3 linked regions of the Homo sapiens genome follow. The protein of the gene in region 1 purifies or fractionates together with the protein of each later gene. This does not show direct contact. Each region holds a gene or a part of one and is shown on either strand. Other genes may lie near its edges.

Region 1 (3,500 bases):
CAATGAGATATCACCTAATGCCCATTAGGGTGGCTACTCTAAAAACAAAATAAGGCAAAAACAGAAAATAACATGTTGGTGAGGATGCGGAAAAATTGGAACCCTCATGCACTGTTGGTGGGACTGTAAAATGGTGCAACTTCTATAGAAAATAGTATAAAGTGTCATCAAAACAATTAAAAAAAAGAACTACTGAGATATGGAGCCAGCCGGACTTCGTGGGTCGAGTGGGGACTTGGAGAACTTTTCTGTCTAGCTAGAGGATTGCAAATGCACCAATCAGCACTCTGTCTAGCTAAAGGATTGTAAATGCACCAATCAGCACTCTGTAAAAATGAACCAATCAGCACTCTGTAAAATGGACCAATCAGCGCTCTGTAAAATGGACCAATAGGCAGGAAGTGGGCGGGGCCAAATAAGGGAATAAAAGCTGGCCACTGGAGCCAGCAGCAGCAACCCGGTAGGGCTGCTGTCTGTGATGTGCAGGGTTTGGTGTTTTGCTGTTCACAATAAATCTTGCTGCTGCTCACTCTTTGGGTCCACACTAGCTTTAAGAGCTGTGACTCTCACTGCGAAGGTCTGCAGCTTCATTCCTGAAGTCAGTGAGACCACAAACCCACTGGGAGGAACAAACAACTCCAGATGCACCATATCTGAACATCTGAAGGAACAAACTCCGGACACACCATCTTTAAGAATTGTAACACTCTCCAAAAAAAAAAAAAAAGAACTGTAACACTCAGGTTGGGCATGGTGGCTCACACTTACACTATCATATGATCTAACAGTCCTGCTTCTGGGTATGCCTTCAAAAGAATTCAGAGTCTGAATGAGATATTTGAACACCCATGGTCACAGTAGCACTATTCACCAAAGTCAAGAGATAGAATCAACCCAAAATGTCCATTAGTAGATGAGTAGATAAACAAAATATGGTATACACATACAATAGAATACCATTCAGGCTCAAAAAGGAAGGAAATCCTATCATATGCTATGACATGAATGAACTTTCAGGACATTATCTATGTGAAATAAGCCAGTCACAAAAAGACAAATACTATATGATTTAAACAAAGCATCTAAAGCAGTCAAATGCACAGAAACAGAAAGTAGAATGGTGGTTAGCAGAGGGCAGGGTGGAAGAGTTGAAGGAGAAAGGTTTTTGTTTAATGAGTATAGAGTTTCAGATTTGCAAAATGAAAAAGTTCTAATGATTTGTTTTATAACAACGTGGATATACTTAACACTACTGAACTGTACACTTAAAAATGCTTAAGATGGTAAATTTTGTTGTTTTTACTGCAATTTTTAAAAAGTATCTAACTAAAAAATTACATATGAGAGCGAGAGCTCTTGCACCATCTTGAGGAACAAATTGGCAACTATCCTGGTTAGGATTATTAGTTGCCTGTAACAGAAAACCAATATAAATAAATCTAGTCTGAAAGGGAAGTGTAGGAAGTGTACTAGAATGTTGTGGAACCAAAGACAGGAAGTTCAGTTGACTTCAGGATCAACTGGAACCAGGAACTTAAATCCCATTGAGATTCTTTTTCTCTCATTTCTACTTAATTCTCTCTTTACTCTCTTGTTTTAGTCCATATGGCAAGACGTGATTGCCAAGCATTCCTATATTTAAAAATCTCTTACTCAAGAGAGTGGTGAGACTGAACCTCAATTCATCAGTCTCATTCTACATTCCCAAGAAGGACTTTGACTCCACTTGGGTCAGCTGCCCATACCTAGGCCAATGAGGCAGTATCTGATGAAAGGCCTTCCCAGAAGAGAAGGAGGGACTGAAGTATTGGTCATTTAAAACAATGGGTGCTGACAACAGTATCTCAGTCCAGTTCCCAGTAAAAAGCTCCAAGCTGTGTAAATAATGTCTTCTAGTAGCAAGGGCCACAACTGAACAAGACATAGACATTGAGCACACCTTTTATTCAATTAACAGATCTGTCTTCTTTACATGTTTGTTGGATACATCAAAACAAGTGTTCGAAGTGTCAGGCTAGGATGAAATACAACTTTTGGTAGCTCAAAATTAAGAAAATAGCAGAATTTCTTATTGTTGTAGACAAAGTAGGTGCTCCATGCATGTTTTTAAACAAGTAGGGCCATGGGATTTACATATTGTGTTCTCTGCCTATACTGCTAATTTAGGTCATTCATTTAACAAATATCTATTGTGTGCCAAGTATGTTCAGAGTACTTTTTTAAGCCCCCTGAGATACTGAAATGAATAGCATAAGTATCAAAAGAGAAGTTAATCACAGTGTAGATTTAGTACCTATGGGAAAGAGTTGTTAATTATGACTGAAGTGGATCCATAGATAAGGCAGAGTTCCGGCTGGGTTTTGAAGAAGAAAAAAAATGGTTTGGATAAAATGGGAAGACCTGAAGTCAGGAGCTTACAGTAATGGTCTGGGGGAGAAATTATGAGAGTATTAACTGGAGCAGGGGCAATGGGAAAGAAAAGGGGGAAGAATCAAAAGTTGCATAAACAAAATAATGTACAGTCCTTGGTGATGCAAATGTGAAAGTCAAGAGAAATCACAAGTCAAAGTGGGTTTGATATTTCTACCCAGGATACTTAGGAGGTTGGTGATGCTACCAGAAAAAAAAAAAAAACCCACCCCAAAACATAGGAGCAATATGTGTGGGGAGTAGATAAGGGTTTTAGAGATGTCGAGTTTGAAATGCCCATAGTGTACCCAGGTAGAGATGCCCAGTGCTTAGCACAATAGCCAGCATGTGATAGGTTTTGGGGAGAACACTACACCCTTACTCCATATATTTCCTTTTATGAGAAGGGATCCCCACCAGTGTCATCTTTTTAGCCTCTCTCTTCCTCCCTCTTTCACTCTTCCTGAGAGAACAAGGAATTAATTTATCTGATTGATGAGTATATTAGGAGCAGCTGGACATAAGTAGCTCAGCTCCTCCTTTTTCTTTTTGTTTTTGCTAACTCTCAGGAAGCCCGTGTACATTCTGCTGTGCTCCTGCAGGCCGTCAGTTGTTCAGGGGTAGAATCTGCTCCTGCAGGAGACTTGCACCAGTCTGGTTCTGTCTGACAGTGGGGAGTCTCGGCTGTAGCCCACTTGCCTAACTACAAAGCCTCATTCTCTATTAACATATTTTCAGCACTAAAGGTGATATTTTGATCTTCCAGTTGCCTTATTTTTTTGTCCTTCTCTTTAATTGGTTCAGAGCTAAGCTGGGGAAGAGGCTGTTATTTATTGGACTTCTTTGAACCCCAATAGTAGGTACTCAGAAATATTTACTGAATAATTATGTTTTTAAATGACATATCTAGCAGCAACTGGAAATCTAGATGTGGAACTCAAGACAGAGTTCAAACTAAGGAGGTAGACTTGGAAATGACTAGCATGAAAGTGATATTTATTAGGCTTGAGTGATGTTGGCTTTATTGTCGTTTTTACAGCCAGTACTTATGGAGTGCTTATTATAGGCCAGACACTGTTCTAAGTGCTTTG
Region 2 (3,500 bases), on another chromosome or scaffold:
CACCTGGAATCCAAGCACTTAGGAAGGCCAAGGCAGGAGGATCACTTGAGGTCAGGAGTTCAAGACCAGCCTGGCCAACATGGTGAAACCCTGTCTCTACTAAAAATACAAAAATAAGCCAGGTGTTGTGGTGGGCTCCTGTAATCCCGTAATCTACTCGGGAGGCTGAGGTGGGAAAATCGCTTGAACCCAGGAGGCAGAGGTTGCATGAACTGAGATCATGCACTCCAGCCTAGGCAACGGAGCGAGACTGTCTAAAACAAAGACTAGGTGGAGAGTCCTGCCAGGAAAAGGCCTTCAGCCTCCAACTGCTCTGCTCACTCGAAGCTGGAAGATGCAGCTCTAGAGACGCATCAGGACCAAGGCACGACTCCCCACTTGGAGAAATCAACGGGGAAAGAGACGGAGGCAAAGGAGAACCATCTCACTGGGAGAGGCGACGCTGTTTGACACATCGTCCCCGTACCTCCCAAAGCCACTGCCCTCCCACACCTGGGCAACAGTGGCCCCAACCCCAGGCCCAGCCCTCCTGCAGGAAGGAAGAGGACTGAATGGAGGGCGTGGCAGGCTGAAAGGACGTGGCCTCCTCAAACCCCTTGGTAAACGGCCCCTGGGGCCACCTGGCAGGGAGGGGCTGGCACACCAGGAAGTAGCCTCCTCCTGGGAGTTCAGCCAGAGCCCAGGTCCCGTCCCCCAGTGGCCTCCAGAGCCACCTTTTCAGAAAAAGTACATCCCGCCCACCCTGTTCCCCCCGCCTCCTCCCTGAGCCTCCTGCTGGCCTCTCACCTAGAAGCAGGGGGTAGTCCTCGGCCTCCAGCCAGGGGGTGCAGACCTGGATGTGCTGGAAGTGCTTCTGGTGGATGAGGCGGCTATAATACTCCCTCAGAGGCCCTTTGCCTTCACAGAGAAGAGCAGACACTGCCATGGACCCATCTCTGTCCCTGCCACGTGGCCCCAGGCCCAAGACACTCCCCCCTAGGAGGGATCCCTTTCCCAGAAGCTCCACCCCTCAGCAGCTCCAGTCAGGCCCCATCCGGGCCCTTCCAGAAGCAACCCAGGAGCCCTGAGACCTGCAGGGGTGTGTGCACCCTGACCCCTGACGCATAGCCTTTCACCTGCAGCCAGCTGGCCTCGGGCTGCAAACATGGCGGGGTAAGCACTGGCCTGGCACCCGACCGCCCACTGGGTGGACCCAGCCTTTTGTCTGTGTTGTGCACAGGGGACACGAGGACTCCTCCTGCCCTGGCACAGCCCCCAGAGCATATGGCGCGGGTTCCAAACCACTCCTGGGAGCCTAGAGGCCAGAGGAGGGAGGAGAGCAGGACCAGCAGCTGGCCCAGACCCGGCCTCTTCCCACACCGCTTCCGCTTTTCTCCCTCCTCACTGAGTCACCTTGAAAGGGCTCAGCAGCAGTAACTGTGGGACAGGGGCTCTTCCGTTTGAAAAATTAAGAGGCTTGGTTAAGGCACCAATGACATGGCCGGGCACAGTGATTTGTGCCTGTAATTCCAGCATATTGGGAGGCCAAGGCGGGTGGATCACCTGAGGTCAGGAGTTCAAGACCAGCCTGGCCAACATGGTGAAACCCTGTCTCTACTAAAAATACAAAAATTAGGCAGTTGTGGTGGGCACCTGTAGTCCCAGCCACTCGGGAGGCTGGGGCATGAGAATTGCTTGAATGTGGGAGGCGGAGGTTGCAGTGAGCCGAGATCGCACCACTGCACTCCAGCCTGGGCGACAGAGACTCTGTCTCAAAAAAAAAAAAAAAAGACACCAATGACGTAACAACAACAAAAAAAAGATGCTTGGAAACTACTGAAAAAGTAGAAAGCTTGGTATCTACAGATTCAAATCTGGGCTCCCTGCCCTGCCTCTGAGCCTCAGTTTCCCCCATGTCAAGCAGTATAAGACCCTATGGCAGAGCTGCAGTGAGGATTAAGGAGACAAGATCATGGGAAGCACAGGGTAAAGGCTGCGTGCCCCTCCCCCTCCGCCATCCCCCAACCAAACAGACACCCAGGGTCCCAGGCAGTACCTGTTATCACACAGACGAGAGAAGGAAGGTTGTGTCCATCAAGAGTCAGTTGTTCAAACTCTGTGTTTAGAAAAAGAAACAATTCTACATGGAATTTCTGATAGAATTTTTTTTTTTTTCTGACAGACTCTCACTCTGTCACCCAGGCTGGAATGCAATGGCGCGATCTCAGCTCACTGCAACCTCTGCCTCCTGGGTTCAAGTAATTCTCGTGCATCAGCCTCCCAAGTAGCTGGGATGACAGGCGCCCACCACCATACCTAGCTAATTTTTGTATTTTTAGTAGAGACAGGTTTCGCCCTGTTGGCCAGGTTGGTCTCGAACTCCTGACCTCAGATGATCTGCCTGCCTCGGCCTCCCAGAGTTCTAGGATTACAGGTTTGAGCCACCATGCCCATTCAGAAAAAAATTTTTAAATAAACAATAGCCAGAGTCACCTGGTCAGGTGGAGAAAGAGCACTGCTCTGGCGGGGAGGCCACCAGCCTGTGTGAGATACTCTCCTGGAGGGGGCATTTCAGCCTGAGGGCCTGGTCACTCAATGACCCAACTGGGGATTCAGGGCGGCCCACTTCCACCACCCCCGCTGTCCCCAGGCTGCCCCACCCAGTGGCCTGGGACAGGAACATGCTGCAGGCCAGGCAAGCAGCTTACAGCTCAGTGGCCCCCGACAAGCCCAGAGCTCCTCACCGCAGCCACACACCTACTTTCTAAAGCTGCCAGCAGGATGGAGAAGTCTTCGTCCTCTATGAGAAGAGAATTGAATGTCAGGGGCCTGTTTCTAGACACCCCTCTTCCAGCTCACAGGCCCTCCCGTTCTCATTGAGACCGTGGCAGGGTGGGAGCATGCAGGACTGGCAGGGGTGAGGAGAACACAGGTTGGCCAGGTGCCCGTCACACCAACCCCAAGTGCCCCAGGGGTCCTGCAGACCTGTCCAGCTCGTGCTGCTGACCAGCAGGGCTGGCCGCTCACGGAGACGCGTCACCAGCCCGCTCCCAGCATCCCGCTCCGTGAAGGCCGACCGCTCCGTGACTGGGTCCTCAGGTTCTGAGCTGAAGGAGCAGAAAAAAAGCCTGTGAGAGGCCATAGAGCAGGCCCGGGACCCAGGAGAGGCATCTCCTGCCGTGGCGAGGCCTGCAGGCTCCCAGAGGTTGGGGTGCCCAGCCACATCAGCAGCACCAGGCCACCCCTGCCATCTGAGGCCTGGGCTTGCTTTCTCTAATATTGTTGCTGGGTGCTAAGGTTACAACAGCAAACAAGACTGACTCATTCCTTTTCTCCACGGGACTTACTGTCTTATCATCCCCTGGACTCAAGATGAGGGTGCAGGGACGCCCTCCCACACCACCCCAGCTTACCCAGGGCACACCTCAGGGTGCGTAGACCTGCACAAAGGTCCCCTCCTTAGCCCCATGAGACACCCCAGGGGACACACAGGTCCACAGATCCTGCCACAGGCCTGGGAA
Region 3 (3,500 bases), on another chromosome or scaffold:
CATCTGCCATCAATGGGAAGATGAGTTACCAAAACCACCAGGCCCACTGTGGCATCCCATCACGTTCCTGCCCTACTGTACGTCTACAGGGCAGTCCACAGGTCCCTCTTAGATGTAAGGATGGTGGTCTCAGAGGGCCAGGCCACCTGCTGGAGGCCCGGGCCCACAGCTGTTCTTGGTACCCTGGCACTTCTTCTCCTGGCGCAGGCTGCTGAGCAGAGGGGCACAGCCCCTGTGGCTGCCATGTTGAGAACAGATGGGAAAGCTGGGCAACTAAAGCCTGCATCATGGCCCCAATGAGCAGCGATCACTTTGAGGGACATTCTGCATTTCTGACTCCTCCATTTCTTACACCTCAGGTTTCTACTGATAGCCAGGACCACTCCTGCCTGTCCCTCCCCATCCTGGTCTGTCCCAGATGATGTCGTTCCGTGACTCACAAGGACCGGGCCCACGGCGATCCACCACAAAAGCCACTGTCACTGGGATGGCAATGGCTTGGTTGGTCACGGGGCTGGAGAAGGTCAGGGTAGTGGACAGAGGCCCTTGGCTGCCAGCCGCGGGGTCCAAGACGCCGACCGTGTATGTGATGAAGCTGGGCCACCCAAAAGACTTCTCCTTTGCGAATGCCAGCACGGCCGGGGACCCGGATTTCACCTGGAAGAGACATCAGAGCTGGGGGTGCACATTCTGCAGAGTGGGGGGACCACTGAGCGGGGCCTCAGGACCCCGAGGCGGGAGGGCTGCTCTGCATGGCCATCTCTGGAAGCACCCCCGCTTCAGCCTGACATGCTGGGCTTCCCTCCTGGGGCCCAAGGGTACAGGTGGGGACCCCTGCCCAGGTCACATCTCATGGGCAGGTAATGACACCTGGGCACTGCTCATGGACGGCGTGTACTCTGCAGAGTCGGGAAGCCCTGTCCATACTCAGGGTGTTTTTTGAGGGAAGGACAAATCAATATGAATGTCAGAATCAAATTCAAGCTCATTTAATTCTAATCAACTGCTGCTTACAAAAAGGCTAAACCAGGCTGGGCGCGGTTGCTCACGCCTGTAATCTCAACACTTTGGGAGGCTGAGGCGGGCAGATCATGAGGTCAGGAGATCGAGACCAGCCTGGCTAACACGGTGAGACCCTGTCTCTATTAAAAAAACAAAAAATTAGCCGGATGTGGTGGCAGGCGCCTGTAGTCCCAGCTACTCAGGAGGCAAGGGTGGGAGAATGGCATGAACCCGGGAGGTGGAGATTGCAGTGAGCCAAGATAGTGCCACTGCACTCCAACCTGGGCGACAGAGCGAGACTCCGTCTCAAAAAAAAAAAAAAAAAAACTTTGGGAGGCCAAAGTGGGCAGATCACAAGGTCAGGAGATCGAGACCATCCTGGCTAACATGGTGAAACCCCGTCTCTACTAAAAAAAAATTAGCCAGGTGTGGTGGCAGGCACCTATAGTCCCAGCTACTTGGGAGGCTGAGGTAGGAGAATGGCATGAACCTGGGAGGTAGAACTTGCAGTGAGCCCAGATTGCGCCACTGCACTCCAGCCTGGGCGACAGAGCAAGACTCCATCTCAAAAAAAAAAAAAAAGGCTAAACCAACATGAAGTATCACCAAGCACCAGCTCTCCAAGGTAGCAGCCCGAGCTCTGCTCACGCCGCCAGCGGGCTGGCCCTCCTCCCTCATCAGCGATGCTGAGCATTCCCTGCCTCTGCAGAACATGCGATCACGCTGGCTGCAGCAAGGCAGGAGGAGCAGGCGGAAATGCCGAGGAACTCCTTGGTTCTCTCACCCCCGAACTCTTCCCAGCCTGCCAGGCTCTGGGCCTGAGGGATCATTCACCCACCAATCCCACCCCGTGACTTAGTCATGGGGGAAGTGAGGCCTGGAGAGAGGGGACTTGTCCCAGCAGGGATTAGGGCTTTCCTCCCTGCTCTGTGGCAGATGCTCCTGCACTGAATTCTGCGATGCCACGCACCACACGCTCACTGGCACCTTTTCTGGGGTTCTCACTGCTGCCCCCACAAGCTTAACTTGTAGCTGGGGAAGACCAGCAGCGGTCAGAACAATTAATACAATCACGCAGCCTGAGAGACAGCAACAGTGCTATGGAAAAAGAAAAGAGTACTTCAATTTAAAAATTCTAATTGTAAAAATAAATTTTAAAGAGAGCTGGCCCAGGACATCCACACCACATTCCCTCTTCCTCCAGGGCCTTCCTGATGCCCCTGACTCCGGCCTGGCCTGAGGCATGCAGATGCCACTCACCTCCAAGTTCTCCAGAACCTCCGGGGCACCAAAGACCCTGATCTCGGAACTGGTGTAGTGGTTGCTCAAAAGGATTTCAGCCTGGTCGGCGAAGAGACCTGGGCTGAAGGGCACCTCGGCCCCCACCTGCTCTGTGGAGAAGTGGCTGCTGGAGAGGGAGGCACTGACCACCAGAGCTGTCTTCTTCATGCTCAGGTGCTTCCGCTGCTTGTCCGTCAGCCTGTGCATTGTGATTGAGCAGAAGTACTGGCCTGCGAAGACAAGGGTGTATTGTCTTGTCCCCTCTCCTGCCCGTGCACTGATGTCATTTCTTCTCCCTGCTTCTCTAACCAGGGGATTCCTATGCATCCTCCAAAGCCCAGGTGAGAAGTCACCTCCTCCAGGAGTCCTCCTGGGAATCCCCTATAAAGGCCTTGGCCAAGCTAGGATACCCTCTGTGACCAGCAGTCCTCCCAAGTCCCCCTGGCGTCAATCCCCAGGCTGGGCTCCTGACAATCTCTGCCCTCTGGACAGACGGCCATGGTGAGCTGGGCACGTGGAAGCCGCAAGATGCCCAGAAGACAGAGACTGTCTCCAAGTCCCTTTCACTTTCAAATCCTCGCAATTACCGAGAGCAGTGTCAAACTGTGGCTCCACGGTGAACACATCTTGAGATGGGAAATCAAAGACGGCCGGCTTGAACTGGGACTGGCAGCTGATGAGGGTCTCTGGGTGCAAGGCCTGGATGACTTCCCTCTGGGTGGGGGTGCACTCGCCTAGAGAGGGGAGAGACGAGAGGGTGTGGGCCAGGCCCGATGGCCACCACACCAAATTCCACCAGGCCTGCACAGGCTGGCTGGGCTGCAAATGCCACCTGCCCCTGCATGTCTTCCAGCAGGGCCCCAGGGCGGCTCAAAGCTTTGAGATGCAGCCAGGATTGGTAAAGCCAAGGACATATCATATGGAAGAGGATGCCATCGGCATCACAGGGAGCTTCAAGTCAGAATTTCAGCATTTGTTCCAGACCTTGCATCCAGGGGCACGGCAGACGGGCTAGGCCCACTAATGCCTGTCTTCTGTCCCTGTCAGCAGGGGAAACGGCAATTTACTTCTGCACATTCAGAGGGCACTAGTTCTCCACTAACATCTGAGCAGCATTTAGGCAACGGCACAGTGCTGTCCACTTGCGCTGAGGAAGGAGCAGAGGCTGCCATGATGGAACAGAGCTGCCTCGTTAATCAGGACGAGAAGGGCGGTGC

What was found. Proteins that work in one complex are often made in the same cells at the same time.
Region 2: the proteins of VTCN1 (region 1) and ALG1 purify together in Homo sapiens (affinity purification with mass spectrometry, with the first as the bait; one large-scale study listed by BioGRID). This does not show direct contact.
Region 3: the proteins of VTCN1 (region 1) and NUP210 purify together in Homo sapiens (affinity purification with mass spectrometry, with the first as the bait; one large-scale study listed by BioGRID). This does not show direct contact.

What each region holds. Positions count from the first base shown.
Region 1 is NC_000001.11:117,148,428-117,151,927, reverse strand, and holds part of VTCN1 (V-set domain-containing T-cell activation inhibitor 1 isoform 1 precursor), read left to right. Parts: intron 1-3,500. UniProt on the Homo sapiens protein: Negatively regulates T-cell-mediated immune response by inhibiting T-cell activation, proliferation, cytokine production and development of cytotoxicity.
Region 2 is NC_000016.10:5,078,343-5,081,842, reverse strand, and holds part of ALG1 (chitobiosyldiphosphodolichol beta-mannosyltransferase), read right to left. Parts: intron 3,087-3,500; coding exon 2,965-3,086; intron 2,780-2,964; coding exon 2,741-2,779; exon of another isoform or gene 2,737-2,740; intron 2,096-2,736; coding exon 2,036-2,095; intron 898-2,035; coding exon 787-897; intron 1-786. UniProt on the Homo sapiens protein: Mannosyltransferase that operates in the biosynthetic pathway of dolichol-linked oligosaccharides, the glycan precursors employed in protein asparagine (N)-glycosylation.
Region 3 is NC_000003.12:13,319,323-13,322,822, forward strand, and holds part of NUP210 (nuclear pore membrane glycoprotein 210 precursor), read right to left. Parts: intron 3,018-3,500; coding exon 2,871-3,017; intron 2,514-2,870; coding exon 2,263-2,513; intron 658-2,262; coding exon 441-657; intron 4-440; coding exon 1-3. UniProt on the Homo sapiens protein: Nucleoporin essential for nuclear pore assembly and fusion, nuclear pore spacing, as well as structural integrity.